Regions from separate parts of the Homo sapiens genome. Here region 2 is linked to region 1. Evidence: fine-mapped expression QTL. A gene starts in region 1. The other region holds a variant in brackets. All regions are shown on one strand. Distances are from middle to middle.

Region 1 (3,008 bases):
GTAAAAATTACTGCTGTCTTACTTCTCCTCGCCCTCTAGGAGTCTCTGTGGAGTCTTCTTGAATAAGCTGTGAAACATTTCCCCACCCGCTTCCCTTTCTTGGCCCAGGCTTCCTGACCACAGCCTCACCTTTGAGCAGCTCAGAGCCCTGCCTGCCAGGATGCGAGCCACTGCCTGGATCGTGGCTCTGCAGGGCCACCCATGATGGAACAGGTCGCCTGGTGAGGTGGTGAGGCCCTTCATCATTTCAGGGGGTGTACAGCAGTACTGGGTAACCCCGAAAATCAGGGATGAGACTGAAGGATCCCTTCCAGAATGTGGACACAACCCCTCCTTTGAGTCTCACCTCCTTTCCTTCTTTTTTTTGAGATGGAGTCTCGCTCTGTCACCCAGGCTGGAGTGCAATGGAACAATCTCGGCTCACTGCAACCTCCGCCTCCCGGGTTCAAGTGATTCTCCTGCTTCAGCCTCCTGAGTAGCTGGGCTTACAGGTGTGTGCCACCACACCTGGCTAATTTTTGTATTTTTAGTAGAGACAGGGTTTCACCATGTTGGTCAGGCTGCTCTCCAACTCCTGACCTCGTGATCCACCTGCCTCGGCCTCCCAAAGTGCTGGGATTACAGGCATGAGCCACTGCGCCCGGCCTCTCGCCTCCTTTCTTTCAAGTCTGAGGTGGCTAGCCTGGAGGGGTCCCCAGGGGCTTGTTGGGCACTGACGAGGGGACACCCTGGGGGCCCAGTACTCCACTCAGACACCTCCCACAGCCTTCTGACAGCATCCTTCCCACAGCTGACCAGCTAGAGGACCTCCTGACCCCTCCACTTGTCTGCTGGTGTGGAAAAGCCTGGACCCTCCCTCTTGGAGCCTCAGTTTCCCTATCTGTAAACTTCGGTCTATCCCAAGCTGAAGAACTGGCCAGTCCCTGCCATATGCCTCACTTTCCCCTGGGACACATTTTAATATCCCTTTCCTGGCCAGGTGCAATGGCTTCCCCATGTAATCCCAGCACTTTGGGAGGCCAAGGTGGGCAGATCACTTGAGGTCAGGAGTTCGAGACCAGCCTGGCCAACATGGTGAAACCCCATCTCTACTAAAAATACAAAAATTAGCCAGGCATGGTGGCGCACGTCTGTGGTCCCAGCTACTTGGGAGGCTGAGGTAGCAGAATCGTTTGAACCTGGGAGGCGGAGGTTGCAGTGAGTGGAGATCACACCACTGCACTCCTGCCTGGGAGACAGAGTGAGACTGTGTCTCAAAAAATAATAATAATAAAAAATAAAATAATATCCCTTTCCTCACAGGGGCTATTGTGTCATCTTCTAGAAGGATCCGTTGAGGCTCTGAGGGGTGGGGGAACTTGCTTGTGGGTAGGACCACCTGTCAGAGGTCAGAGGTCAGGCCACCAAGGAGACCCAGTGGGATGCGCCTTCCAAAGGTGGGGGTACGGATGGGACCCATGAAACCTGACTCCTCTCAGACTCTAGCCAAGTCTAAGACTTTGGACGGCCACCACCCAGAGGAGAAACTGAGACCCAGAGCGGCACGGGTTGGCCAGGGTCACCCAGCACCAGATAGGGACTTTGCCAGCCCCGGGGCAGGACCCTGTCTCCGGCCCTCGACCCCGCTGGGCCGTACCCTCCCCGTTCACCTCCCCCACCCGGGCCGCGGCTGCTAGGAGAGTTCAGAACAAAAGGCGGCGGGGGGCGGGGCCGAGGCGGGCCGGGGGTGGGGCGGAAGCTATAAGGGGCGGCGGCCCGGAGCGGCCCAGCAAGCCCAGCAGCCCCGGGGCGGATGGCTCCGGCCGCCTGGCTCCGCAGCGCGGCCGCGCGCGCCCTCCTGCCCCCGATGCTGCTGCTGCTGCTCCAGCCGCCGCCGCTGCTGGCCCGGGCTCTGCCGCCGGTGAGTGCCCGCCACTCGCCGGCCGCTCCTCGCTGAGGGGGCGCCGGGCACGCGGGCTGGGCCCAGCGGCGGATCCGGACCGAAGGGGGCGCCCCGGGTGGCCTCCAGCGCCCGGTACCCGAAACGCTTTCTGGTTCCCTCTAGGCGTGATAGACAGCGAGCTTGCAGTCCCTGGGGGTGTGAAGGGGAGCCGGCGCCGGCATCGTTCGGGCTGGTGGGACGGGACTCCACGCTGGACTCACGCTTGCTCCCAGCGTGGGGACCTGCCTCTCGCGCTCCAGCCGCGGGTGCTGGAGTGTGCGTTGAAGGAAGCAGCAGAGGGAGTGGTAACAGGGCCCCCTATTCATCGCAGGGACAAAGCCGAGCAGATCCCAGGCAGGTGTCAGCCTGCAGGTGTGTGGCCGCAGTTAGTACACCTCCAGGTGTGCGGTGGGATGAAGGATAAAGGGAGAAGGGAGGGCAGCGCTGTGCTGCGGGAAATGGGGTCTAAGCCTGGAGATGTCCCCCGCGGGCACCTGCCGGCAGCAGTTTTGGGAGGCTTGGAGCCAGGAGAACATGAGTATGAAATAGTATGAGTGCAGTGTGTGTGTGACTGAGAGGTGGCTGTCAGAAAGAAGCGGGGAGAGAAAGGAAAGGGAGAAAATGTGTGCTCAGGAGAGGAGAAGAAAGCCCAGGTAAGAGAGGACAGCAGAGTGAGGAGAGGAGGGACTGTCATGGAGTGTGTGTGACAGCTTGCATGTGTCCCAAAAGCTGCCCCTTCCCTGGGGCGCTTCCAGGCACCAGTCACAGGGCCTGGGGCCAGAGCCTGGGCCACTCCACTCCACAGCGGAGGCATCCAGACAGCTCGGGCAGGGAAGGGAGCAGGAGGGTGTGACAGGCAGGAGTCTCAGGACTGGCCTGGTGAGGAGGCAGGCCTGGCCAGGCTGGGACCCTCTGTCCAGCCACTCTGGCTCTGCTCAGGGCAGCCTTGTCCTGTGCTGGCTATGGGAGCAGAAAGGGATGGGATGGGTGGGGTAGAGTGAATGGGGGGCATCTCAGTCTGGAGTCTTGCCTCCTTCCCAGCCCCTCTTGGTTCCTAGGACTTGGGACAGAGTCAGGAATCACTGTG
Region 2 (2,729 bases), 72 kb after region 1:
GTCCTCAAGCAATCCTCCCTTGGACTCCCAAAGTGCTGGGATTACAGGCGTGAGCCACCACGCCCGGCCCCCTATGTCACACTTGATGCTCCCATGGAACTCTCTAGTCCTTTCCCTTCTCTCCTATGCCTTACCACCACCACTAACTCTTATTCAGGCCTCAGGTTCTCTCCTCTAATATTGTCCCAGCTCTCTGAACTATTCATTCTGTTAAAAAAAAAAAAAAAAAAAAGAGTAAGGCTGGGTGTGGCGGCTCACGCCTGTAGTCCTAGCACTTTGGGAGGCTGAGGAAGGCGGATTGCCTGAGCTCAGGAGTTCAACACCAGCCTGGGCAACATACAGAAACCCCATCTCTACAAAAAATACAGAAATTAGCCAGACGTGCTGGTGCATGCCTGTAGCCCCAAGTGGGAAGGGGGAGAGAGCCAGGGGGCTGAGGCTGGAGGATCGCTTGAGCCTGGGAGGTCAAGGCTGCAGTGAGCAGAGATTGCACCACTGCACTCCAGCCTGGGTGACAGAGTGAGACCCCGACTCTTAAAAATATTTTTTAAAAAATGTTTCCTGGCTGGGCACATTGGCTCATGCCTGTAATCTCAGAACCCTGGGAGGCCAAGGCCGGTGGATCACCTGAGGTCAGGAGTTGGAGACCAGCCTGGCCAACATGGTGAAACCCTGTCTCTATTAAAGATACAAAAATTAGCCAAGCAAGGTGGTATGCACCTGTAATCCCAGCTACTCAGGAGGCTGAGGCACGAGAATCACCTGAACCCCGGGGGCGGATGTTGCGGTGAGCCAAGATCGTGCCACTGCACTCCAGCCTGGGCGACAGAACAAGACTCTGTCTCAAAAATAATAAAATAATAAAATAAATATGTTTCTTAAAAGCAAAATAAATAAAATTAAAAAAATAAGAGAGGAAGAGCAGAGGGTGAAAGTGCCTCCTACTCCAGGAAGCCCTCCCTGGTCACCTTCAAAGGGACCAGAGCTCACCTACTTCTGTTAGAGTCCTGAGCACTTAATTTTTAAATATATTTTATTCTAAAGGCAGTCCATGCCTGTTGTAACTAACCACAAGAATCAAACAAACTGAACGTTTGTGTACCTGCTGGTGCAGCTGTATTTTCTTCTTGATGACACATAGTGCCTTTTGGGCCCTGAGCACTTGTCCATTGGGGGACCTCTCCCCTCTTTGAGCACGGGGCCCACCCCCTTTGAGCACAGGGACCCCTGCAATTGCTGTGAGTAGGCTTCCAGCTAGCCCCTCCCAGAAACAGCTGTGTCCCCCTTGGCCCTTCCTGTCTGGGCCACAGGCTATTTTTAGCACTGAATCCGGAACCCACA[T/C]AGCAGCAGCTGCTTGTGGCCGGAGCGCAAGAACAACAAACCATCCAGGTGGGTTGTGTCAGGCTGCAGAGGGAGCGGCCTGGGCCTGGCCCTCTGAACCTGGTAGCAGAATCTGGACTTTCCAGGAATAAGCTGGTCTCTGGGTGGGATGGGGAGGGAGGAAGCAGAATGGGGCAGAGGATGGGTTGCACTAGCTAGGCCAGGATAGGGGAAGGGCCTGTGCAAAGGCCCTGAGGTAACTGGGGGAGAGGAAGGGAGCAGAGGAGAGAAGGTGAAGGAGGCAAGGAAGAAGAGTTGCTTGTGACGGGAGGGAGAAGCGGGGCCAGGCCAGGCAGAGGTGTGTCGGCCGTGGTCTCTGTCCTAATCAGATGAGCCGGGGAGGAGAGCGGTGGCCTGCAGTGGCTTGCATTAACAGCGAGGGAGTGGAAGGGTTAGGATGGCTGAAGCCACAGGCCTTAGTGAATGCTTGGTAGTGGGGGTGAAGGTAGGAGGGGTCCTGGCCTACCCAGCTTGGGGGACAGTGAGCCCCCACTGGGTGGAGACATGGGTGAATGGCCAGTAAGGGAGGGAGACCACTCGTTGAGTCAGGCAGGTGAGCTTGGGGTGCTGTGGGGTGGAAGCCCTCCCTGGCCTCTAGCCCAGTCCTCCCAGCTCCTTCCCTTCCGTGGCCCTGGTCATTCCTGCTTCATGCAGAAGGGCTGCAGTTGTCCACACAATGGCCCCTCTAGGCCTGGTTTCTGCTGCGGAGCTGGCACAGGCAGGGGCTTGGTAAACAGGGAAAAACAGGGAAACTTGTGAAGACAGAGACCTGGACTCCAGGGCTGGAAATGCAGCCTCGGGGCTGGCATTGTGACCTGAGCACTCCCTTCCCTCTCTGGCTCTGTGTCCCTCTCTGTGAGATGCGGGTCAGAAGGGTCCATGTGTAGAGTCTCTTTCAGCTCCAAGGTTGTACTCTGATCTATAATGGGGGTATCAGAGATTTCTGGGTGGAAGCCCCTTCCTGTAACAAACACAGCTGGCCTCCCCATCCAAGGCCCATCTCTGCTATGAATAAGTGAATGCTTATGAGCAAGAATGCACCAACAGAGGAAGCTGGAGGGCCCCTGCCAGTCCTCTCTGCCGGATCTGTTCCTCGCTGTCTCCTCTCAGCCAGGAGCCTTCATGGGCCTATGGTCAGGAACAGCCAGAGAGGCCTGCAGGGCTGGGGAGGGAGTCGCTGTGGGTGCCTTTTTCCTGCAGGAGCTCAGCTTCTGGCCAGGGGAGGAGACACTGAATCCCATACCAAGCAGGGAGTGGAAATGCACTGGTGAGTGGTCCAGGGCAGCCGTGGGGCAGGAGAGCTCCTGATGAGGACAGGAGGAGGAGGGGATGTGCTAGGCAGGGACAAA

Evidence for each region. PIP is the estimated chance that this variant, and not a neighbour inherited with it, causes the effect.
Region 2: its variant is the best candidate, but not a certain one, in a credible set for the expression of MMP11 in whole blood (TOPMed, PIP 0.62).

Annotation. Positions count from the first base shown.
Region 1 is chr22:23,771,079-23,774,086 of GRCh38, forward strand. It overlaps MMP11 (matrix metallopeptidase 11), which reads left to right and starts at 1,771. Exons shown (of 8, transcript NM_005940.5): 1 at 1,771-1,900. The coding sequence starts at 1,793. It overlaps LOC107985577 (a long non-coding RNA gene), which reads left to right. Exons shown (of 3, transcript XR_007068022.1): 2 at 109-229; 3 at 791-1,299.
Region 2 is chr22:23,843,281-23,846,009 of GRCh38, forward strand. No RefSeq gene overlaps it. Among named protein-coding and RNA genes, the nearest start is that of DERL3, 5.6 kb to the left of the region's middle. RefSeq lists an enhancer at 1,102-1,595. The variant T/C (reference allele first, on the strand shown) is at 1,342.